5 separate regions of the Homo sapiens genome follow, and regions 1, 2, 3 and 4 are each linked to region 5. The links come from fine-mapping of genetic effects on gene expression. A gene starts in region 5. Each other region holds a variant in brackets. All regions are shown on one strand. Distances are between the middles of the regions.

Region 1 (5,107 bases), 130 kb after region 5:
GTACATAAATAGAGATAATTTTACATCTTTCTTTCTGATCTGGATGCCTTTTCTCTCTTTTGCTTGCTTAATTGCTCTGGCTAGGACTTCCTTGTCTTGTTCCTTATCTTAAAGGAAAAGTTTTCGGCTTTTCATCATTGAGCATGTTAGTTGTGGGTTTTTCATTTATGGCCTTTATTGAAGTTCCTTCCTTCTATATCTAATTGAAGTGTTTTTAATCATGAGAGGATGTTGAATTTTGTCCATCCTTTTCTCACATCCACTGAGATAATCAAATGATTTTTATCCTTTATTCTCTTTATGTGGTACATCACATTTACTGACTTGCATATGTCGAACCATCCTTGCATCCCAGGAACACATTCCACTTGATCATGGTGTATGATCTTTTTAATGTGCTGTTGAATTTGGTTTGTAGTATTTTGTTTCAGATTTTTGCACCTATATTCATCAGGCATATTGGCCTGTAGTTTTCTTGTAATGTCCTTATCTGGTTTTGGTATCAAGGTTCTACTGGCCTTCTAAGAAGAGTTTAAAAGTGTTCCCTCCCCTTCAATTTTTTTTCTTTTTTTGAAAGAGTTTAAAAAGGATTGGCAATATTTTTTCTTTAAATACTTGGGAGAAATCACACATGAAGCCACATGGTCTTGGCCTTTTCTGGGAGGTTCTTGATTACAGATTCAATCTCTTGTGCATTATTGATCTGTTCAGATTTTCTATTTCTTTGCACTTCAGTTTTGGTAGGCTGTGTATTTCCAGATATGTTTCATTTCTTCCAGGTTATCCAATTTGTTGGCATGTAATTGCTCAAAGTAGTCTCTTATGATCCTTTGTATTTCTACAGTATCAGTTATAATGTCTCATCTTTCATTTATAATTTTATTTGAGTCCTTTTTTTGGCTAGTCTAGCTAAAGGTTGGTCAATTTTACCTTTTCAAAAACACCAACTCTTAGTTTCATTGGTCTTTTCTATTCTCTTTATAGTCTCTATTTTATTTATTTCTGTTCTAATCTTTATTATTTCCTTCCTTCTGCTAACAGGAAGCTTAGTTTGGTCTTCTTTTCCTAGTTTTCTGAAGTGTAAAGTTAGGTTATTTGAGATCTTTATTTTTCTTTCTTAATTCTACAGTTTACTTTAAATTACAGAATTTAGGTTGTGGGTTTCTATTAGTTCACTATATTATTCTCTCGTCTTATGTGTATGCTTCAAAATCTTCACAATAAAATCTTAGAAAAAAGCATACACAGAAGATGAATGTGCAAAATACAAAACATAGTGTAACTTTGTTGAAACAGGAACGGGATTCCAGAGCTTTTGCACTGGTTCCTTCCTTCCCACCTGAGATATACCTCCCTGGAACTCTGGTCTGAGGAACACAACTTGAAATGACTAATATATAGATAAGCCACCTTGTCAGGTAGGGGAAGTACTAGCAAGATGCAATAGTACTGTGGGGGATTTAGTTATCTAAATAGCTGCTCCAAAACCTTGGTCTACTAAAACCAGGGTATCACTAACTTTTTGCCTTGTACTGCTAGCAATTTCATTTACACACAGAAATAGCAAGGAAAATGGCTACTTAGAACTAAATTCTGATCAAATAGGAAGGGCTGGTAAGTGACAGATCATTGGCAGAAGGTTGCCAGGCGGCTTTGGGATGGGCAATGAACGTAACACTGGACAGAAACAGATGTGTATCTCAGGGCTACTCACCATGATAACCTAATCAGTTATTAACAAAGGAAGGAGAAGAAAGGAAAAGTGTCCAAAGTAACCAAAGTGGCCATAGAGGTAACTGCTATGTTCAGGTTAAAATGTACAAATGACAGGAGTAGCAAATAATTGAGATTGAATACAAAAGCCTTGCACCAACTTTTAAGTGTAGTTTCTGGAATGCTAAAGACAAAAAATAAGACTTTTGAAAAGGATTGGGGGGGGGGGGAAGCAAAATAGAGGAAAGTTAGGAACACTTCTCAATCAGGTGGCTTCACATGAACTGAAAGTCAATTTCTCATTTCCTCTGTCAAAGAGAATGTTCTTCAAACCGCAAAGGAGAAAACAGAACTCATTTACGTGAGTATAGGTGCCTTCAAACGTGACCACAGAAATAATACAGTAATAGCTGAAAAGTTTAGGAATCAGGAGAGGTGGCATCAAACACAAAGCGGTTCTTGTATCCCAGTGGGAAAACAAATAGGCTCCGGAAAATATTGATTCATGAGGTAATGTAATCCCTGGAAAATTCTAGGATGAAATATTACACAGGAGTTCGATAAGCATTTGGAAAAAGAAGTAGTGATAACCAGACAGTAATGGGTACA[C/G]TGTGAACTAACCTCACATATTTTATTGGTTGGTTTATTAGAAGGAGAGATTAAGGATGACAGAGACCACTATCCACTTGTCTTTAGGCAAGACATTTGCCAAGAATTTAATGATGTCTTCTTGGACCAGGATAAATGACTGTACAGGGGGGTAAATTTAAATGTCTGTTACTGATTAAAGAATTGTTACAACGTGTAGATTAATAAACAGAATGACAGCTGGGTATGGTGGCTCATGATTATAATTCCAATACTTTGGGAGGCCCAGGTGGGAGGATTGTTTGAGTCCAAGAGTTTGGGACCAGCCTGGGTAATATAGTGAGACCCCATCTCTACAAAAAGTAAAAAAATTAGCTGGGCATGGTGGTATGCACATAATCCCAGCTACTGGGGAGGCTGAGGTGGATTGATTGCTTGAGTCTAGAAGGTAGAGGCTGCAGTGAGCGGTGATCGTGCCACTGTATTCCAGCCTGGGAAACACAGCAAAACCCTGTCATTCATTCATTCATTAGTTAAAATAAATAAATAAATGGAATGTAAAACTGAATTGAGGGGGAGGTTCCTTGAGTTGACGTGTGATTGTTCCAGTCTGTCTTTTTTTCTATGATTTAGAACTCGGGATTGTGAAAGCAGAGGATGACATGATGCTGCAAGGGAGAGAAAATGCTCTGACAAGGTATTCAAAGATACAGATAGGATGGAACACTGAGAAGAAATAAATAAAACTCTTTGGGTATAAATGTAAAGTTCTGTACTCAGATCTTAGAAAATCAATTGTGTAAGTACAGGCTTGGGGATAATCTGAACATTTTTGAGATTGACGTCTATGATTCAATTTTGTAGTGTGGCAGCCAAAAGGGCCAATGCCATTTTAGTTTGATTTAACACAAGTGTAAAACTCAAAACCAAGAAGGTAGCAGTCCCACTGTGCTCTGACCTGATCAGATTACAACTGGAACACTGAATACAGTTCTAGACTAGACAGTTGAAGGAAGAATTGATAAACTGGACTGTGCTTAAGGGAGGGGACAGCTGTAAGCCATCGAATATGGGAAATGGCTGAAGCAACTAGAAAGGTTAGGCTGGAAAAAAAAATGAGACTTCGGGGAGTCAAATGTGATCTTACTACAGATGACGGCTGTTAGAGGAATGGAATGGTTTAATGATGGTTCAGAAGGTAGAACTTTATTTAAAAAGAAAAGAGGCCAGGCGCAGTGGCTCACGCCCATAATCCCAGCAGTTTGGGAGGCCAAGGCGGGTGGATCACAAAGTCAGGAGTTCAAGACCAGCCTGGTCAAGATGGTGAAACCCTCTCTCTACTAAAAATACAAAAATTAGTCTGGCGTGCTGGCAGGCGTCTGTAATCCAGCTACTCGGGAGGCTGAGGCAGGGAATTGCCTGAACCTGGGAGGCAGAAGTTGCGGTCAGCCGAGATGGCGCCACTGCACTCCAGCCTGGGCAAAAGAGTGAAACTCCGTCTCAAAAAACAAAAAAAAAAAAAAAAACAAAAAAAAAAAGGGAAGAAGAGAATTCAGCTCAAGATAGATAAAAACGTTTTAACAATTGGAGGTATTTAAAAATCAGTTGGGGTGCTGTGTGATATTAAGTTCCTCATCTGTGGAAGTATCCTAATGAAAGTTAGAAAGGCACTGGTCTGTGAGGTTGTAAAGGTAACACTTACTTTGCAGTTTGTGAGATGTTGGATTTGGTGACCACTGAAGGCCTTTCAAGGTAGAATTCTATGCCATGAGAATTGCACTGAAATTAGTCACTCAAACACAATGTCAGGGAGGTTTTTATACAGCATAAATAATACTCCGATAATGTGAATTGCTTATGACTTCAAATTTTTAAAAATGCACTTAGATACAATATTTAAGGTTATTAAGGAGACTGAGCAAGTAAAGATAATAAACACGCAATATTACCTTGACAGGATATGAAAAAAGCTTAACGAAACCAAAATCATCTCCGGTGGCTAAAAGGGAACAGTCTTTGGTAAGACTGGCAGCATTTACGTCAGTTATATCGCTATGTGCTGGCCAGATTCCCTCACAGGTGGGCCCCAGGACACAGGTCCATGTGTCCCACTCTATCTTCTCGATCTGAAAAAGAACGAAAGAGAATGATATTTTTGCACAACCTAGTTTGTTTTATTTAAAAGAAACAGTTTGCACCTGAGTAATTCTAAATTACTTTGCCAACGTTAGGCATTTGTGTTGAGTGCTGAGGTACACAAATTCTAAGTTGCATATTTAAAGTGGTTATTTGCATTGTCTTCAGAAGCCAACACTGCAGTCAAATACCCAAATGTTTTTCTCTAGATAAAATGAACATTTTGAAATTGTGGAAATTTGATAATAATAAGGTATTTTAGTTCTTAACTAGACATTTATCATTGTATAAGCCATAAGCTGGATCCAGATTCCCCAACGCCAGCACTGATGTCTTAGGCTGGAAAATTCTTTGTTGTTGGGACTGTCCTGTGCGTGTCAGGATGTTTAGAGCATCTCTGGTCTCCGCCCACTGGATGCCAGTAGCATACCCTTGTCCCCAGGCATTGCCAAATGTTCCTGGGAAACAAAATTGCTCTCAGTTGAGAATCACTGACCTAGGCTGATCAATGGAGATGATCATTTAGCCAATTATTTTAAAAAGTTACAAGACACAACTTTAAAAAACATGACTGCTTCCTTGGAGGAAAAAGTAATAAGATTCTGCAGCAAGCTTAATATCCTGTATGCTCTAGAGAGACTACTTTAAAAATCTGAAGAGCTATTCATAT
Region 2 (5,107 bases), 33 kb before region 5:
CTCAGGCAGAAGGATCGCTTGAGGCCAGGAGTCTGAGACCATTCTGAGAAACACAGTGAGAAATCGTCTACAAAAAAAAAAAAATAAATTAAAGTTGAAAACAAAGGCAAAATTGGTTGACAGTGAAAGATATCTGGATGGTGGTTACCTTTGCGGGAAAGATGATGGCTGAAAGGGGGCCCCAAAAGGGCTTCTGAGATACTGATGTTATTATTATTATTAATTATTATTATTATGTTGGTTAGAGACAGTGTCTCCCTCTGTTGCCCAGGCTGAAGTGCAGTAGTGTGATCACAGCTCACTGCAGCCTCGAAATCGTGGGCTTGAGTGATCCTCCCACCTCAGCCTCCCTAGCAGTTGGAACTACAGGCGCATACCACCATGCTTGGCTAATTTTTAAATGTTTTTTTTTTTTTGTAGAGATTAGATCAGGCTATGTTGCCCAGGGTGGTCTTGAATTCCTGGGCACAAACAATCCTCCTGCCTTGGCCTCCCAACGTTCTGGGATTACAGGTGCGAGCCACTGCACCCAGCCCTGGTCATATTCTATTTCTTGATCTTGGTAACAGTTACACAGGGGTATTCATTTTGTGAAAATTTATTGAGGTGTAAACTTATAATCTGAGTTAGCATGCTATACTTTAATAAAAGTTAAAAACAAAACTAAACACTACTTGTAGACAGTGATCAATTCCTAAAGTTGTTTTACAACTTTATATTCCCAGTCAGGGGAATAAGCTAGGCATCTTGATCTTTGTGTCTTTTCAATGTAGATTAATTGGGAAATAATAAAATAGCTGCTATCCTTGAGGACCTGTGTTACTTCTGTTCACAGTGTCCATGTGATGAAGAAAGGGCTCTATCTGATGAAGAAATGTCAGAAGATCTGACTCTTGTTGGCTCTATCACCTATTGACGCTACAATCTTTGATGTGTCAGAGTATTCTCTCTTGCCTTATTTTTGGTCAAATGAGGACTGCAATAATGATTTGTGAAGATTACACAAGATGTATTTATGAACATATTTTGTAAACATTAAGGGGCTACAGATTTGATTTGTTATGATCCAACAAATGTGCAGCGAGATTATATTTATGTCTCATAATGGGCCTAACGTTAGAAAGGGGCCAGGCCTTCAATAATGTTTATCAAAGGATGGAATGAGCCTGTGTTTCAGGATGTGAAATACTCATTCATTTTTTTCTATGTAGATTGGGGAAGGATTATAATATGATTCATTTTTATGTTTGAATTTGTTAGGCTATGGTGCCCAGTTATTTGAGCAAACATGTCTAGATGTTGCTGTGAGGTACTTTTAAGATGAGATTAGCATCTAAATTGTCAGCTTTGAGTAAAACAGATTCCCCTTTATTATGAGGGTGGGCATCACACAATCAGTTGAGGGTCTTAAGAGACTGAGCTCCTCTGAGGAGAAAGAAATTCTGCCTCTAGACTGCCATCGAACTGAAGACTGCAACACCCACTCCTCTCCAGGTCTCCAGGCTGCCCTGCAGATTTTGGACTTGCTAGCTCCCACAATTGCCAGTTCCTTGGAACAGATTTATCTACCTCTCTCTCCTTCTATGTGTGTGTGTGTGGGTGTATATGTATATATACACACACACCCCCACACACACCTATTACACACTGTGTTTGGGTTCTCCAGAGAAACAGAACCAATAGGATGTGTGTGTATATATCTCCTGTTATGTCTACGCACACACACACAGTTCTATTTCTCTGGAGAACCCTAATTAATACAGTGTGCAATAGGAAAAACCTAAAATGTCTTCTCCTACTGTTTATACTCTCAAAGCAACAAAGAGCTAGGTGCAGTGGCTCATGCCTTAATCCTAGCACCTTGGGAGGTCAAGGCAGGAGGATCGTTTGAACCCAGGAGTAAAAGACCAGCCTGGGCAACATAGTAAGATCTAGTCTCTACAATATTTTCTTTAAAAATTAGCTGGACATGGTGATGTGTGCCTTAAGTCCCAGCTAGTTGGTTGGCTGAGTGTCAGGGGGGATCACTTGAGCCCAGGAGGTTCAGGCTGCAGTGAGCTGTGATTGCGCCATTGCACTCCAGCCTGAGTGACAGAGCAAGACCCTGTCTCAAAACAGCAACAACACAGATGTTTCTGGTCACCAAAATGTGTGAGTTTTGGCCACATTAAGCAATTCTCCACTTCTTGGCAGACATTGACTGGGTATCCTACAATTTAATTCAGTTCTGACACTTACTCTAGTCAGCACAGACGCCACAGGTTAAGGGCTCAATCCCATGAGACTGCCCCAAACATCAGATGCCAAGTGCAAATAGTAGGTTCCCAGATTACCCACACCTTTTGTCTGACTTGGTTACAAATCAGAGGTTCCCATGACCCCCCAGGGGTTCAATCATTTGCTAGAATGGCTCACAGAACTCAGAGAACTCTTTACTTTTGTTTACCTGTTATTATAACAGGATGCAATTCATGGCCAGGCATGGTGGCTCACACCTGTAATCCCAGCAATTTCAGAGACTCAGGCTGGAGGATCACATGAGCCCAGGAGATCAAGACCAGCCTAGGCAACATAGTGAGACCCCACCTCTATTTAAAAAAAAAAAAAAAAGGCAGGGGGGATGCAACTCAGGAACAGCCAGATGAAAAAGATGCACAAGGCAATGTATGGGGAAGGGGTTGTGAGCTTTTATGGCCTCTTAGGGGATGCCACCTTCCATGATTTCAGCAACCCGGAAGCTCTCTGAACCCCGTAGTTTGGGGATTTTTATGGAGGCTTAATCATGTAGACATGATCAACAATTAACTCAAATGCAGTCCCTCTTTCCTTCCTGGAGGTTGCAGAGTAGGGCTGAAAGTTCCAAACTTTTAATCATGGGTTGGTCTTTCTGGTGACCACCCCCCTTCCAGAAACCCATGAAGAGTCACCTCATTAGAACAAAAGGTGCTCCTTTAACCCAAGAAACTCCAAGGAATTAAGCTCTGTTTCAGGAACCAGGGTCAAAGACCAAATATTAGAACAAAGAATGCACCTAGCAATTGAGATGCTCAGGAAATTACAAGGGTTTTAGGAGCTGTGTGCCAGGAACT[G/T]GGGTCAGACCAAATATATGCTTCTTCTTATTTCACACAGAAGATAGGATGATGAGAGGAAATTTTTAAAGTAACTGTTAGGGGAAAGAGGATCTAGTCCCCATTTTAAATAGGCTTGGGTCAACTGTTTTGTCTGAATTGTATGTGAAAACACAATTTTTCCCCTTATAGTTTCCCTTAATTTTGTATTATTTAAGTGAAAGTGCAGGAGGTTTACCTATTTTTTTAAATGTGCTTTTTATTCTAGTACGTGTGTGTGTATGTGTTTTAATCATAGTTTAAATCATAGTATATGAATTCACATCCTGGTTGTTTTTTTTTCTTCTTTGAGACGGAGTCTCGCTTTGTTGTCCAGGCCGGAAGTGCAGTGGCGCAATCTTGGCTCACTGCAACCTCTGCCTCCCAGGCTCAAGCAATCCTCGTGCCTCAGCTGCCCAAGTACCTGGGACCACAGGTGCATACCACCATGCCTGGCTAATTTTTGTATTTTTAGTAGAGACGGGGTTTTGCCACGTTGGCCAGGCTGGTCTCAAACTTCTGGTCTCAAGTGTTCCTCCCACCTTGGCCTTCCAAAGTGCAGGGATTACAGGCATGAGCCACCACACCCAGCCCCACATCCTGTTTTTATTGTTATATTTATAAGCAAGCAATTTTCTGTGTTGTGACAAACTGTCATAGATATCACTTTTAATGGCTGCATATCCAACCTATTGATATTAACTTATGTACTCATTCCTCTATTGTTTACATTAGATGGTTGTTGATGTTGTTACTGTTATTTAAAATATATAATGCAGCTTGGTGGGTAAAACACGAAATTTGAAAAGCTTTAGACCTGAGTTTGAATCTCAGAAATGCTACTTCTTTTTTTTTTGAGACGGAGTCTCGTTCTGTTGCCCAAGCTGGAGTGCAGTGGCGCGGTCTCAGAGAAATGCTACTTCTTAGCTGTGTGACTTGGGACAAATTACTCAACCGCTTTAATGTGAGATATGGGTGATACTACTTATATTTTATAGGCTGTAACGATTAAGTGAGATAACACATATAAAATGCCTAGTAGAGCACCTGGTACATAGGAGGCATTCAGTAAATGAGAAGTATAAAATTTCCAGTTCACTTTATAAAGTTCATAAGGGCAAGCAATAATTTTATTGTTTCCAACACCTACCATGGTTTATGATGCATAGAACTTAGCATAATACATATTTGCTTTCTTGAGCTTTGCAGAAATTTAGGATTATTTTCTTAAGTGGAATCACTGAGCCAAGGCTTATAGACAGATAAGGCTTTGGAAATGTGTTATAGATTGGTCTCTACCTGGCCAGGGGTGGGTGAAATTGGGCCAGTCGCCAAGGCTGGGCTTGCTGGGGATGGCCTGTTTCAGGAGCATGTTGGGAGTGTGGTAGTTTGGTTTGTGGTGGCTGCTCCTGATTTGGCTGTTCTCAAGTCTCTGGCTTTTGAGAGATATATGAATCTACAATAGCATTTTTGTTGTGATATAATCTCTGAGTACTTACAAAACAATTGCCGAGGTGATATATGATCGTTTCTATGGAAGAGCTTAGGGAGACCAAAGCATCAGGTGAATACACCTTGGTTGCTCCATTCTGAGCCCTTTGGATCCAGCTCTGTCAGCCTGTTCCATACCTGGAAGTGGTATAGCCAGTTAGAAATAATCTCTGTAAAGAGATTAAAGATACTGTCTTTATACAGATTATTGCACATTTATGCTTCTTGACTATGTCAAGGGTTGAAATTCAGTTTAGGCCTTCTACCAAGTAAAGTACCCATCTACCTGAAAGAATCAAATGGCTGTTATATTTAAAGGCAGCATGAGGGAAAAAAGCAGAAGTATGTAAGGCCTCTTTTTCATCATATTTGATAAAAATGAATTAGCAATCTTGATTAGCAAAAAGGCAGGGGATAGATCTCTCTCTCACTCATTTTTTTTTTTTTTTTTTTGAGACAGGGTCTGGCTCTGTTGCCGAGGCTGGAGTGCAGTGGTATGATCTTAACTC
Region 3 (5,107 bases), 44 kb before region 5:
ACAGAGGAGAAAGATGAGGCTGAAGGTTGATGAGGAGGGGCGGGAGTGCTGAAGGCTTCCATATGTCATTCTTGGCCCTTCAGACTCCACCTGCTTCCTGGGGGAATTTCACTTTTCCTGCTCTTGCCTATACACTGGTGATTCAAATGATTCAGAAATCCTTATCTCCAGCCCTGACCTCTATCCTGAGTTCCAGAACAGCCTGTTCAAGTGTCAGCTCTTCATTATGGATTTCACTTCAAAGTCAACATGTTCCAAAACTGAGCTCATTATCTTTCCCAGCAACCTATTCCGTCTCTCATATTCCCAATGTTTATGAAAGTGTTCAAGATAGAATCCTTAGAGGCCTGGGTGGCGTCTGCAGCTCTACCTCTGACAGTCTGCCTCTTCGAGGCCTCCTGAAGCTGCCCCTCCTCCTTCCCCCACTGCTGTCTCCTTGGTTCAAGCTTTGCCATCTCTGGGGCAATAGCAAGTGTCTTCCAACTGCTCTTTCTGCCTCCAGTTTCTTCTTGTTTTGATCTTGTTTTCTATTATTCTCTTAGAGTACCAGTGTTCCAAAGCTTTCTTTACAAGAAGTACCTGGGGTTTGATTACAAATGCAGAATTACCAGGCTTTCCCCCCAACCCCAGAAATTCTGATTCTGAGTCTGGACTGAGGCCAAGGAATTTTTTTTTTTTTTTTTTGAGACAGAATTTCACTCTGTCATCCAGGCTGGAGTGCAGTGGCACAATCAGGGCTCATTGCAGCCCTGACCTCCTGGGCTCAAGCAATCCTCCTTTATCACAATTTAGCTCTTACTCATCTTTTGCAAATACTTCCATATTAAATTGCTTAGTGGCCATGCCTTAGTTCGTGCTGTGCCCTCTGCCTAGAACTTCTCTTGGCCTCTTGTCTGCTTGGTGAACTTTTTTCTTTATTGAAATCATTGCTCAGATATCACTATCTTAGTATAATCTCCCCTAAGTACTGGGGCCACAGTGAGGGGCTTTGGCCTAGTTGCTCCCTTTAAAATTTGTACATGCCCAAATAAATACCTCGCATCTACCTAACAACCTTGCAATTATCCATTTACAATGACTGTCACTCCAACTACACCTCATTCCTTGAGTGTAGGGAAGCCTTTCTTCGTATTTTTTGTATTCCTGGGCCCAGAAAGCTGCCTGGCACAGGACAGAAGCTTAATAAACAGTAACTGCTGCAGCATGACAGAATGAGCAGAGGGTGTGGTGGAGTGCTAGCATGGCACCCAGATCTCAGGGCAGGAGCCAAAACTGGAAAGTAGCTTGCGTTCAGATTGAGAAAAAGACCCCAAAGCAACACTGAAAACCTTGGACCTTAACTTCCAACTAAGACAAAAGTTTTATTCCTAAGTGGGATTATTTAGCCAGAGAAAGGCTATGATTAGAGCTTTGATAACGTGGTGCAGGATGCTGAGAACAGTCTGGGAACTTAGACTTGAGACTGTGGAGATAATGCTGATGAGGAGTGGGTTCTGGGAGAGAACCTTGAGAGATATATTAGATGAGGCCTGATGAATGATAGATTCCAGGGATGGGAGAATGAGGAATCAAAAATCACTTGGAAGCTCAGCCAAGAGATCAAGGTCAGCATCAGCAGTGATAAGTCCTGGTGGTAGCATGCACTCTTTTTTTTTTTTTGAGGCAGAGTTTTGCTCTTGTTGCCCAGGCTGGAGTGCAATGGTGTGATATTGGCTCACAGCAACCTCCGCCTCCCGGGTTCAAGCGATTCTCCTGCCTCAGCCTCCTGAGTACCTGGGATTACAGGCATGCGCCACCACGCCCAGCTAATTTTGTATTTTTAGTAGAGACGGGGTTTCTCCATGTTGGTTAGGTTGGGCTTGAACTCCCGTCCTCAGGTAATCCACCCGCCTCGGCCTCCCAAAGTGCTAGGAACAGGCGTGAGCCACCATACCCGGC[C/T]CAGCATGCGCTCTTATATGGTGGGATGAAAATGGTACTTTACCTCTGTAGTCTCTCTCCCAATAACCCATAACCACTGTCCCATTAGGAGAAAAGCATCAGATAAATCCCAAGTGAGGGACATTCTACAAATTGCCTGATCAGTCCCTGCTCAAAACTGTCAAAGGTAGCAAAAACAGGGAAAGTCTAGGAAACTGTTAGAGCCAAAAGTAGCCTAAGAAAGCATGACTAAATGCAATGTGGTATCCTGGATGGGATCCTAACAGGAAAAGGGCATTTGAAATCTGCATAGAGCTTGGGCAACATAGTGAGATCCCCATCTCTACAAAAAAAATTTAAAAATTAGCCAGGTGTGGTGGCGAGTGCCTATAGTCCCAGCTATTTAGGGGAGTCAGGGGCAGGGAGATAGGGAGTGCCGAGGTGGGAGGACCACTTGACCCTGGGAGGTCAAGGCTACAGTGAGCCCTCATTAAGCCACTTATACTCCAGCCTGGGCAGCAAAGTAAGACAGGGTTTCACTGAAAGAAAAGAAAAAAATCTGAATAGTGTGGACTTCAATTAATAATGTATCAACATTGGTTGGTTCATCAATTATAACAAATGGACCTCACAAATATAAGATGTTAATTTTTAAAATTATTTTACAAAAATTAATTGAAGGTAGATGATGATGTGATTAACCTCATAATAATATTTGGGTTTTTTTGTCTGTGTTTTTTTTTTTGAGACAGGATCTCACTCTGTCGCCCAGACTAGAGTGCAGTGGCACGATCTCGGCTCACTGCAATTTCCGCCTGCCAGGTTCAAGCGATTCTCCTGCCTCAGCCTCCCAAGTAGCCAGGATTACAGGCACATGCCTCTACTGCCCAGCTGATTTTTGTATTTTAAGTACAGACGGGGTTTCACCATTTTGGCCAGGCTGATCTCGAACTCCTGAAGTCAGGTGATCCACCTGCCTCGGCCTTCCAAGTGCTGCGATTACAGGTGTGAGCCACCGCGCCCAGCCTTATTATGGTATTTGGATATTGCATGTTGTGTGGATGGAGTATGGCGATAATACGGGAAATACAAGAGGAGGACTTGTGTGGAGTAGGAGGTCACTCGGAAACCATGGTTATTTCATTGGTATTCAAAATCTGAAGTTTCTTATATGAATTTCTTGCTGTGCATCTCTTGCTTTCACTTTTGGGTATTAACACTCAAGCCTGTCTCAAGTCCACTTCATTCTTTGCTTGACCTAACTCAGGGGTAACTGTCAGTCTTACATAGACCTGATGTTAGCACCATGGTTCCTTGTGCCTCAAACGTTTTCCACCAGATTGTCTCCTAGTCAGCTCTTCCTTGTCATTCATCTCAAATGTCCCCTGCCCAGAAAGCCTCCTTTGATGACCTGATCTAAAGTAGCCCCTCCCCAGTCACTCCACATAGCATGGCTCTGTTGTGTTTTGTTCATGGCTCTTATCACTATCTAATATTTACTTGTCTGTTTACTTGTTTATGGTATGTGGCGTATTTTCCCACTCAAACTGAAGTCCCATGAAAGCAGAAGCTCACCTGATTGGTCACTGCTCTATACTTCACTGCGCAACAGTACCCAGAGTGCTAGTGATGCTCAGGAATTATCTGCTTAATTAATTCATGTAAAACACTCTCTTTGTCAGCTTGGCGACTGTCACAAAATAGCACAGCCTGGGTGACTTCAACAACAAACATGTATTTCCTACAGTTCTGGAGGCTGAAAAGCCCAAAATGCAGGTGCTGATGGATTCCTGGTGAGGGCTTTCTTCCTGGCTTGCAGACAGCTGCCTTCTCACTGTGTCCTCATGTGGTGGAGAGAGAGAGATCTCTCCTTAGAAGGCACTAATCCCATCATGGGGACTCTACTCTCAGGGCCTCATCTAAATCTAATTACCCCCCAAAGGCTCCACATCCTAATACCATCACACTGAGGGTGCAGCTTTAACATATGAATCTTGGGGGAACATGATTCAGTCCATAACAAACACCATTATGGCTCCATCCGCTCTGCCACCCAGATACATTAGTGTAGGATATTAGTGATCGTAAGAAAATTGTGACTCTTTCATGCTATTTCCATGTCCCTCTCATATTCCATTTATAAATAGAATAAAAGCAAGAAAATTCTCTTCCTTATAATTCCTTTCCCAATTCTATTTCCCTTAGAAAAAGCAAACCATTCAAGTAACAGAAGCATAGCTAAATGAAATGCATTATATCCTTGCCAGACCTTAACAGGGAGTTAGTTAAGGGGCCCTCAGACTGCCTTCCTCTGGCTGTAATCAGAGGAGGAAACAATTGAGACATTTACCCTTTTTCCTCTTACCAATTTCTCTTCTCCTTTTCTCCTTCATCTCTGACTCTTTCCTAATCCCCCCTGGCCTCGTGGAGGGAGAGGTGTTGGTACCCTTGTACTCTCCAGATCTCAGGAAAGATGCAGATAATGACTCAGGGCTTCCTCCGGAAGAAGCATCACCTCTAAGCTATGCTGCGGAATCACTTAGAGGTTATGAGTGCAAGAACTTCCCTCAGCATAATAAACACCTTTCTGGCGTAACAGGAGAATGAAGAATACTTTCTTTGGGCCCAGGGACATTATTGCTTAATTTATTCTATATATATATAAAATAAATTAAATATATATAGAATAAATTATTTAAGTATAAAATACACACATATGTTTATGTGTTTGTAAATAAAACAACATACAGGTATACATGCATTTAGCCATTTAGAGTTCAACAGCATTTCAGTTGTATTTTTTAGCATTTCAACCACAAAAACTGTTGAACTAGGCACTTACAGGTATTACTAAGAGCAAATACAAATTCTATATTAATGTGTATGACATTTCTTCATTAAAGAGCTGTCACTATAATTGGCTGGCCCACGAATGTGCATCATAAGCTATCAAAACACAGACATTTTCAAGCAGCTCTTAGAACAATGCAAGGCTCTTATCTTCTGATATTTTACACACGTACACACACACATAGACACACACACAATGGTTATTTTTATTAGTGGTCAGAACTCAGTAAGCAACACTGAATAGATAAGTGAAAAAGTGAATTTTTAAAATCAAACAAAAAAGTTTTACCCATTGGGAAAATGTCTGTGAAGAAGAAGAAAATGCGAAGGGGCAAAACTG
Region 4 (5,107 bases), 20 kb before region 5:
CCCCAGCAGGCAAGAAAAAGGTCACAAGTTTATGCATAGCAATACACTTTTGAAAGTGGTTTCTGTGAGACACATGGCTAGTTAGAATTGTCTTTCTTTGCTGTTGTATAGTAGGTACAGTAAAACTTTTCTTTTTAATTTATTTAAAAATATGTAAAACCCAGTCTGGCCTCTTAACAGAATTGCCTAATAAAATTGCAGACATAAATAATTATATTGAGGGATGGAAGCTAGAAGGGGTGATTGAATAAGATGAAAGAATGAGCAACTGAGCCGAGCAACTGAAGAAGCTCATTTTCAGGGGATAGAGTTGCAGAAAAAACACTTTAACAGTTTCTCTTTTGATTATTTGAAATAAACATGGCATATTTAATAAAGAAGTATAAAGCACAAATGGTAATCCTGTAAAAGATGGCAGAAAACAGTAATAGTTGTGATCCTTATAGTTAGAGATTTTTCAGATTTGAAGATCATGTAAACATTCCTTTGGGGAATTTCAAAATTAGAATGCATATCGAATATCATTAGGCACGTGCTCAAGTGCTAAGTGGTACAGTTATATCTAGAACAGCAAGATGGTACTGTGATAATTAAAGAGAAGAAATTGCTCAAAAAATTATTATCAAAAGTGAAAACTTAAAAAATGTGTATGCCCCTCGATCCAGAAGCTTCACAACCAAGAATGTATCCTAAGAAAATATAAATACTGGGCCGGGTGCGGTGGCTCACGCCTGTAATCCCAGCACTTTGGGAGGCTGAGGCAGGCGGATCACGAGGTCAGGAGATCGAGACCATCCTGGCTAACGCAGTGAAACCCCATCTCTACTAAAAATACAAAAAATCAGCTGGGCATGGTGGTGGGCACCTGTAGTCCCAGCTACTCGGGAGGCTGAGGCAGGAGAATGGCGTGAACACGGGAGGTGGAGCTTGCAGTGAGCAGAGATCGCGCCACTGCACTCCAGCCTGGGAGACAGAACGAGGCTCTGCCTCAAAAAAAAAAAGAAAAGAAAAGAAAATATAAATACAAATAATGCTTTTCTTTGACTCTGTTTACTCCAGTTTTACATATTTTTTTTTGAAAAAAAAAATAACTAAAAACAATCCACATCAATAAGGGACTGTTTACACCAATTGTGGCACACCCATACCATGGAAGGACATCTTAATGATTTGGGATAGTGGTGGGAGCTGCTTATTGCAGGAAGCGGAGGAGGAAGATGATGAACATTTTGACTTTCTTGTACTCTGGAAAATTTTCAAATAAATGAAGTTGATTTTAGCAATCTTCTAACTTTACTTTCTCCTCTTCTCTCTCTTGGAATCTCTTTGGGGTTCCAAAATTCTCAAGCTAACCCAGTCATTATAACATCTTTACTTTACAAAGTAATTTGAACTGCTCTCTCCTAAACTGTTTATGATCTTTACAACTTTTTCCCTCCCTTCACTAATAAATCCATAGAATCTCTAAAAAGATTCAGGGGTTTTGTTTGTGGTTTTTTGACAACCACAGGCACTGCGGCAGTGCTGGGGACATCAGTGAAGGGTATGGGCTATGGTTTGCTAAAAAGGGGTAATCTATAAATTGACAGTCTGAAGTCAGTGATCGCCTGCAGCATTTTTCATAGAACCAGATCACAAATATTCTCTGCATTAGCAGAAGTAAATGACTGGCTTTTTTTTTTTTTTTTTTTTTTGATGGCAAATGGTGCCTCTCCTATACCAGCAACACAAATTCTATGTAGTTAGAAGTAGAAAAGGGCATCAAACACACAGGGTTGTTTGTTAATGTGTTTCCAGTTTCTGAAAAGACCGTAATGACTTAGTTATGTCTGGTTACATTTTCTTTTAACTTTCAAAGCACTTTTCCATCTCCTTTCGTTGTTTCCTTATAATCACCCGTACAGAAGGTAGGGAAGGTACTATTGCTCCCATTTGAGAAATGATGAAACTGAGACACAAAGAGTTAATTGCAAGGTAGTAATAGGACCCAGGATGACTGACTGTGCCAGACATTTTGTCTTGTAGATCACAAGCAAGAGACCCCCTGGTGGCCAGTAAATTATTATTGTAGAAGCTAAGCATAATTTGAAACCATTTCCAGGAACTTAGACTGGGCTTGGAGTTTCAAAGTTCCATTAAAAAAAAAAAAAGAAGAAAAAAAAGGCAGGGCGAGGTGGCTCACGCCTGTAATCCCAGCACTTTGGGAGGCCGAGGTGGGA[A/G]GATCACGAGGTCAGGAGATTGAGACCATCCTGGCTAACACAGTGAAACCCCATCTCTAATAAAAATACAAAAAATTAGCCAGGCGTGGTGGTGGGCACCTGTAGTCCCAGCTACTCGGGAGGCTGAGGCAGGAGAATGGCGTGAACCCGGGAGACAGAGCTTGCAGTGAGCCGAGATCGCACCACTGTACTCCAGCCTGGGCAAGAGAGAGAGACTCTGTCAAAAAAAACGAAAAACAAAAAAACAAACAACAACAACAACAACAACAAAAATCAAAACAGCTGTTTGTCCTTGATAGGAGTGGAGATTTTTATATGCTGAGATAATAATAGACCGGTGATTTTTAACCAAAGTCAATTTTGCTCCCCACCCCTAATCTCATCCCTCTTCCCAAAGGCATTTTTGGTTATTGCAAATGGGAGGGAGTATTTTATTTTTCTTTCTTTCTTTCTTTTTTTTTTTTTTTTTTTTTGAGACAGAGTCTTGCTCAGTCACCCAGGCTGGAGTGCAATGGCATGATCATAGCTCACTACAGCCTTGATTTCTTGGGCCCAAGTGATCCTCTGGCCTCAGCCTGCTGAGTAGCTGGGACTACAAGTGTGAGCCACCATGCCTGGTTAATATTTTAACATTTTTAGTAGAGACAAGATCTCGCTATGTTGAACTCCTGAGCTCACGGGATCCTTCTGCCTTAGCTTCCCAAAGTGCTGGAATTACAGGTGCGAGCCACTGTGCCTGGCCTTTTGTTTGGGGGGGTGGGGAGGATTTGGGGAAGGGTGTATTACTGGAGTATTACTGGCATCTAGTGAGTAGCAGCTGGTGATCCCGCTAAACATCCTAGAATGCACAAGACAGCCCCCATAACAAAGACTATCCAGCTCATAGTTTTAATTGTTCTGAGGTTGAGGAACCCCTGCTTTAGACTGTCTCTTTGCCTTGGTTAATGGTGCTTGGCATGTTATCAGTTTGCCCTATGATTAGTCTCTGCCATCGAAACCACTGGGCAAGACATTTTAAAAGGGAGTTCAATAATGTGCCATCTTTTACCCCACATTTGCTGCTTTCTCTTAATTCTTCATCCCTTCTCTCAATCCTTTCCCCAGTTGTCATCATCCCTACTTCTCCAGCCAGCATTTGGCTTAATTCATGTACCTGTGTTTCTCTCTTTTTCCTCTTTGACATCAAATTGACATGGTTCAGTTCCACTGTGGTCTCTTTTTCTTGCTCTCTTAGAGAAAACACTGAACTTCGTGGACATTGGGTGATGGGTGGAGGTGCAGGCCCTGCAGGTGCCCCCAGGAATGTCGGTTGGGCCTCTCTGGGAGACTGCTTATCTGCCAGCTTCTATTATTAATTTTGGAAGAATGCTTGGGTGGAGGAGGCAGAGGCCTTCCCTTAGTGCCTTAGAGGAAACTCACAGGTGAATTTTCCTAGAAGTTAACTCTACTTCTGAAAGGAGGGTGAACAATTATACTCCATACTCACCTACAAGTTGTAACTCTTATTTGTGTAATAGCAATAAACCCTGTGGATAGTAGTCTCTGGCCATGCAGATATTTTCAGTTTGTTTTTAGACAATGGCAGAGTTGAATTTACTAAGAGGAACACTTAGAGTATTAGAGGGGCTTTCTGATTTTTTTGAGGGGGGCGGTTACAGAGGACCAGGTAATTTTGGATTTTATTTTCCAGAAGAATGCTGACATGGATGAGAAGCATTACTTTTATCTCACTGATAAAGGTTAGAACTTTCATACTCTAAGCAATTGATTTCTTGAAGACGACTGGACTAAACCAGTCTAATTAGGTTTTTTTCTGAGCTAGGTAAAATGTGTTAGTCATTATCTAGATCAGCAATTCTCAAAGTGTGGTTCACAGACCCCTGGGTGCTCCTCCTGAGATTTCTTCAGAAAGTCTGCAAGGTCCAAACTCTTTTTATAATAATATTAAGATGTTATTTGCCCTCTCCCCACCCCTTGTGCCACTTCTCTCTAATTTTGCACTGATGATGCAGAAGCAATGGTGATGCGAACTTTGGGTGCCTTGGCACAAATCAAGGCAGTGGCTTTAAAGTACACTAATTGTCTTTGTGTTCTTCACCTCCATGCACTCACAGTAAAAAGAAAAGCCGGTTTCACTGAAGAAGGTCCTTGTCAAAGTAGTAAAAAGTATTAATTAAATCTTGACCCTTGAGTGCCCATTTTTTAACATTCTGTGTGATAAAATGGAAAGTACACAGAAAGCATTGTTGCTGCATACTGAAGTACAAAAGTGATTGTCTTCAGCAAATCATTTATGCAATTATTTGAGCTGCAAGCCAAACTAGCCCCCACCCCCCCCCCTTTTTTTTTGTAGAGCACCATTTTTCACTTGAAAGAGCGACTGGCAGACAAACTGTGGTTATTCAAACTTGGGTATTCAGCAGAACTTTAATCAAAAACATATGAAGTAAACCTGTCATTTTGAGGAAAGAAAAACTGACAGTAGTTTATTAAAGATAAAATTTGGGTTTTCAACTAAAATTTTGAATTTTGGAAGACCTGTATTCACCACTGTGAGTATGACAGTTTCCTAGTACTAAAAGACTTTTCTGATGCAAGAAATGATGATATGATTAATATGATTTTAAAATATCATCTAAGGAAATGTGTCAAGCTTGGGAAGATATCAATAAGTCTATGTACTGATATTTTCAATATGATGTTACTAGATGATGCATGGGTGAAAGATCCATTCAGAGTGCAAGACAGACCAATGGATTTTAATGTAGCAGGGTAGGAAATGTTCATCGATATACTTTCAGATTCCACACTGCAAATCACCTTTAAGAAACTACTACTTATTGAGTTTTGATATGGTACCAAATAGTAATATCCACAATCATCTTAAA
Region 5 (5,107 bases):
GCAATTCTCCTGCCTCAGCCTCCCAAGTAGCTGGGGTTACAGGTGTGCACCACCATGCCCTGCTAATTTGGTATTTTTAGTAGAGATGGGGTTTCACCATGTTGGCCAGGCTGGTCTCAAACTCCTGACCTCAAGAGATCTACCCGCCTCAGCCACCCAAAGTGCGGGGATTATAGGCATGAGTCACGGTGCCCGTCTGATAAGCTATTTTCAAATATAAATTATTGAATAATTATTTTAAAACTATTATTAGTATCTAGAATGTGCATTTTTCTTTTAACTGGTTCAAATGTCCACCAGAATTTTGTTAGTGATAGTGATATTTACATCTAGTTACAACAATGTATAACTAGCTTTACTTTTAATTGTGGTAGAGCAGCAACAGCCTCCTTTCTTTTTGCTTTGTTGATCATTCTATGAAAGCTGGGCAAACTCTTTACTCATCTATCTATCAAATACTTATTTTTTTAGAAGTCACTGAGATTAATAAAATTTATTTTTATTCTGCACCAGATAGTGCTTATATTATTGCATCAATATTAACTGCTATTTCCTATTAAAATTGTAAATCTACTATTTATAATTATTCTTTTGTGAAACTTTGATTAAAGATACTCCTTTGAGACTATTTTAGTAGTAGTAGGTACAGGGATATATGAATGCAGAAATATCATATAAACAACTTGCAAATAACGTAAGTCCTGTTTATATTAGACATACATAAAGGCCCTGTGAAACTTATCATTAAGGAATTTCAGAACAGTCATAGTGGGAAAAGCATGCGGGGAAGACTGCTGATAGCTAAACTGTGACAATAGAAAAGGTCGTATCATAAAATACTGTTAGTATATTTTTGTATGTTTATGCAATTGGTTGAAAATCAGGCAAATTTTTTATAATTTTTGATAAATATTTGACAAAGACTTCAAATATGTCTCTTGTAGTCACCATTGTAGAAATTTGTTTTGTTTAAATTCATTTGGCATTAACTTCCCGCCCCAAAATTCTACATCAATACATCTCTCTTCCTACTCTTCCCAACCCCTCCAAAAAATAACACCAAACTCAAAGCAAGTCACAAACGTTTTGCACAAATAAAGCCAGTTCTCCGTGGAATTAATGTGATAGGTCTTGAATATATTGTTGATAATTAACCCAATCAAGTAACATTGCCAGGAAATCTTTATTCTTTTCCTTTTTTAAAGGTTCATAAACTTTATTTCTTAGAGCAGTTTTAGGTTTACAGAAAAGTTGAACAGGAAGTACAGAGTTCCCATACACTCTCACTCCTGCCCCCTAACCACAGTTTCCTCTATTATTATTAACATAACGCATTGAGGTGGTACATTTGTTACAACTGATGAACTGATATTGATATATCATTAACTAAAGTCAATAGTCTACATTAGGGTTCACTCTTTCTGTTGTATAGTCCTGTGGGTTTTGTCAAATGCATAATGTTATGTATCCACCATTACAGGATAATACAGAACAGTTTCACTGCCCCCAAAATCTTCTGTGTTCCACCTATTTATCCCTCCCTCCAACTCTTACTTTTCTTTTTTAATACCCAAATTAAGCCACAGTAATATAAATTAGTTGGAGCTAAGAATTTGCCAGTGATTCCCCATGGCAATCAAACTTTCTTAATTATTAATCTAGACTAGCACTGTCCAAAAGAAATATAATGTGAGCCATTATGTATTTAAAAAACTCTAGAAGCTGCTTTAAAAGGAACAAGTAAAATTAATTTAATAATATTATACTTATCCCAATATATCCAAAATATCAATTTCAACATTCAGTCAACAGGAAAGCTGAGATATTTTACATTTCGGAGGTACTAATTCTTGAAATCCAGTGCGCATTTTACACTTACAGCACATCTAATTTCAGCCTAGCTACATACATTCCGAGTGTTCAATCAGTAGCCACAAGTAGCCAGTACCTGTCAGGTACAGCACAGATTTAGACTTTGAGCAACTTGAAAGCAGGTTATCCTCTTCTCTCCAGGGCCTCCAGAGTAGGCATGCAGTGAATATTTTTGAAAGGTAAATCAGAAAGATAAAAGGATCCTGATTCTTACAAAGATGTTCTGCAACTACTCTCTTTAAACTCTCCAGCCTCATAAAAAGTGGAATGGGGATCATGCTTATTCCTGCATATCAAACCAATGACTATGGGGCTTCCTGACTCCCAGAAAGCCTGAATCATCCGAAATGTTGACTCATGAACCTAAGGTGACTGAAATGTAACGTGAACCAAATTAGCTTTCCAAGGCATCTTTGTATTTCCACTTTCCTGTCTCCCCGCTGCCTCTCTCTTTGGGTGACTCACTCTCTTACCATGTAAGAGTCCAGCAGGCAAGGCCCCAAACTCTCTTTGGAAGAAGAGCAGACTTTCAAATGGTCGGCCCCAGATCCCTAGTTAATTCAGCACAGCTGTTTTCCTCCCAATTTCGGGGGCTGCGGTTTAGACTGAGTGAGCCTAACTGTCAAAAAACAATTTTTTTCTTATTTTAGGGTGGTAGTAGTAGTGATGTAGTTTGGAACTTTGAGTGAACAAATAATCTTTTATTTCAAAAATCTTTAAAAATCCTTAGGGCCCACTTCCCAGTCCCGCTAATACCTTTCTCCAGTCGGGTTTCTTCCTTTCCCGGGAGGAAAGTTTCCACTCTCAGTTCCCCCAGGATAACGCCCTTCCGGTGGCGCGCCAGAAACCGCGCCGACCCCTCCCAGCCAGCAGCCCGCCCCCTTTCCCAGTGCTCTAACGACATACGGACGCCAGCTGCGGGCAAGGCCAAGACCCCACCCCAACTCACGGTTACCCAAAGTGGGGGTGGAGCTCCCAGCTCTCAGCCCCGCCCATTGAACGCAATCCCAGCCGGTAAGAGAGAGGAAGTGCCGTAGTCCCCACCCACTTTCATCTCCTTCCCTTTCTGTTGGCCCGGCTGGTCGCCTATCTTCTCGATCCTGTAGCCGATTGGCTCTCTCCCTCCCGCGCCAGTCCCTGCCCTCCCCTGGGGAGGGTGAGTCACGCCAAACTGGGCGGAGAGTCCGCTGGCCTCACTCCTAGCTCATCTGGGCGGCGGCGGCAAGTGGGGACAGGGCGGGTGGCGCATCACCGGCGCGGAGGCAGGAGGAGCAGTCTCATTGTTCCGGGAGCCGTCACCACAGTAGGTCCCTCGGCTCAGTCGGCCCAGCCCCTCTCAGTCCTCCCCAACCCCCACAACCGCCCGCGGCTCTGAGACGCGGCCCCGGCGGCGGCGGCAGCAGCTGCAGCATCATCTCCACCCTCCAGCCATGGAAGACCTGGACCAGTCTCCTCTGGTCTCGTCCTCGGACAGCCCACCCCGGCCGCAGCCCGCGTTCAAGTACCAGTTCGTGAGGGAGCCCGAGGACGAGGAGGAAGAAGAGGAGGAGGAAGAGGAGGACGAGGACGAAGACCTGGAGGAGCTGGAGGTGCTGGAGAGGAAGCCCGCCGCCGGGCTGTCCGCGGCCCCAGTGCCCACCGCCCCTGCCGCCGGCGCGCCCCTGATGGACTTCGGAAATGACTTCGTGCCGCCGGCGCCCCGGGGACCCCTGCCGGCCGCTCCCCCCGTCGCCCCGGAGCGGCAGCCGTCTTGGGACCCGAGCCCGGTGTCGTCGACCGTGCCCGCGCCATCCCCGCTGTCTGCTGCCGCAGTCTCGCCCTCCAAGCTCCCTGAGGACGACGAGCCTCCGGCCCGGCCTCCCCCTCCTCCCCCGGCCAGCGTGAGCCCCCAGGCAGAGCCCGTGTGGACCCCGCCAGCCCCGGCTCCCGCCGCGCCCCCCTCCACCCCGGCCGCGCCCAAGCGCAGGGGCTCCTCGGGCTCAGTGGGTGAGTGCCGCGACCTCTCGCTTCGCGCCGCCCCTCGCGCCCCTCCCTCTTTTGTGTGCAGCCCCAGATGCTTTGGGCTGGTCCCTCCTCTCCGCCCCGAGGGCGCTTTGTCTGCGGACTTCGGGGCGATGGCGCCCCGTCTGGTTGGAAGCGCGGGGAGAAGGGTGGGGCGGCCCTTGGAGCCCGGGTTTGTTCTTATTGTCCGTCTTGGTTTCGGGGAACACGTGCACCGCTCCCGGCTCCCACTTTCACCCTGTGTGATGCCCAGCGTACGGATTCTCGGAAGTTAGGCACCCACCCGTAGTAGGAGCCGGGTATATACCCGAGAGCCAGGGTTGTGGATTTATCGGGTTGGTTGGGCTTCGAGGTGAGGAAGGAAAGGCCTTGGCACCCAGATATTTTTAGGAGGTGCTTTTGTCTACCCGTCTGGGTTGCTCCTTTGGAAAAGGTGCAGTTTTGCTGCGGGTCTGTTGGCCTGCATTCTGCCCCGGGCTCCCTCCTCACCTCCTGGCTGGCGTGGGTGGCCCCTTTGCGCTTCCCCTCCCCCTCCTCCTGTGCTCGTGGGGAGCTGGCCGAGTGGAAAACGTCCACATTGACCCAACCGCAGTGAAGGGAGAGCGCCTCCAGTGGTGTGGTGCGTGGAGAAATGGGAAGGAGAGAGTTCTGGTAAAGTCCTGCCACCGCCCAGCTCCCCGGGGTGTGATGTGGACTGCTCCCCACCAGCTAAACCGAGCCAGGGAAAGGGGATCTAGGCATTGTGTTCGAGGGGGCGTAGTTCTGCCGGGGTTTCAGCTGCAGGGTCGGAGGAATTGCTGTTAGTGTGGACTTGGCCCAGCCTCTTAGTGCATCATAATTGAATCTTACAGAAAAAAATAAAAGGCAAAATGGTTGACATTCCTAAAGAAGGGAAAACCTGTGGATTCCTTGCCAGGAATTGGCTAATTGAACTCGTGGCAGATTTACCATGAGACACAGAGAAATGTTTTGAGACAGACATTTTCATATATATTGGTTAGAAATACTGTTTTTCAGAAGGATATGTTTTAGGTTACAGAATCAAAATACGGTCACGTGCCTCATAACGACGTTTAGGTCAAGGACAGACCGCATTTGCAACGGTGGCTCCATAAGGTTGTAATGGAGCTGAAAAATTCCTGCCGCCTAGCGACGTCTTGATCTTGACCCTGTGTAGGCCTAGGGTAATGCGTTTGTATCTTAGTTTTTAACAAAAGTTAAAAAAAAAATAGAA

Which allele goes with the higher level. Positions count from the first base shown, and alleles are read on the strand shown. Sizes are in standard deviations (SD) of each study's normalised expression. Not every link is listed here.
For the expression in atrial appendage of the gene that starts at base 3,152 in region 5, T is the low allele of the variant in region 3 and C is the other (small effect, 0.29 SD a copy in GTEx).

Evidence for each region. PIP is the estimated chance that this variant, and not a neighbour inherited with it, causes the effect.
Region 1: its variant is the best candidate, but not a certain one, in a credible set for the expression of RTN4 in pancreas (GTEx, PIP 0.53).
Region 2: its variant is the best candidate, but not a certain one, in a credible set for the expression of RTN4 in whole blood (TOPMed, PIP 0.62).
Region 3: its variant is the best candidate, but not a certain one, in a credible set for the expression of RTN4 in atrial appendage (GTEx, PIP 0.79).
Region 4: its variant is the best candidate, but not a certain one, in a credible set for the expression of RTN4 in sun-exposed skin (GTEx, PIP 0.57).

Annotation. Positions count from the first base shown.
Region 1 is chr2:54,916,079-54,921,185 of GRCh38, reverse strand. It overlaps EML6 (EMAP like 6), which reads right to left. Exons shown (of 42, transcript NM_001039753.4): 26 at 4,251-4,427. Among named protein-coding and RNA genes, the nearest start is that of RTN4, 130 kb to the left of the region's middle. The variant C/G (reference allele first, on the strand shown) is at 2,323.
Region 2 is chr2:55,081,807-55,086,913 of GRCh38, reverse strand. It overlaps LOC105374662 (a long non-coding RNA gene), which reads right to left. Exons shown (of 3, transcript XR_002959387.2): 2 at 4,607-4,736; 3 at 1-67. It also overlaps a transcript of RTN4 not described here. Among named protein-coding and RNA genes, the nearest start is that of RTN4, 34 kb to the right of the region's middle. The variant G/T (reference allele first, on the strand shown) is at 3,090.
Region 3 is chr2:55,092,879-55,097,985 of GRCh38, reverse strand. It overlaps a transcript of RTN4 not described here. Among named protein-coding and RNA genes, the nearest start is that of RTN4, 45 kb to the right of the region's middle. The variant C/T (reference allele first, on the strand shown) is at 1,939.
Region 4 is chr2:55,068,131-55,073,237 of GRCh38, reverse strand. It overlaps a transcript of RTN4 not described here. Among named protein-coding and RNA genes, the nearest start is that of RTN4, 20 kb to the right of the region's middle. The variant A/G (reference allele first, on the strand shown) is at 2,220.
Region 5 is chr2:55,048,496-55,053,602 of GRCh38, reverse strand. RTN4 (reticulon 4) reads left to right here and starts at 3,152. Exons shown (of 9, transcript NM_020532.5): 1 at 3,152-3,858. The coding sequence starts at 3,303. RefSeq lists enhancers at 3,322-3,371, 3,334-4,146 and silencers at 3,512-3,571, 3,712-3,831.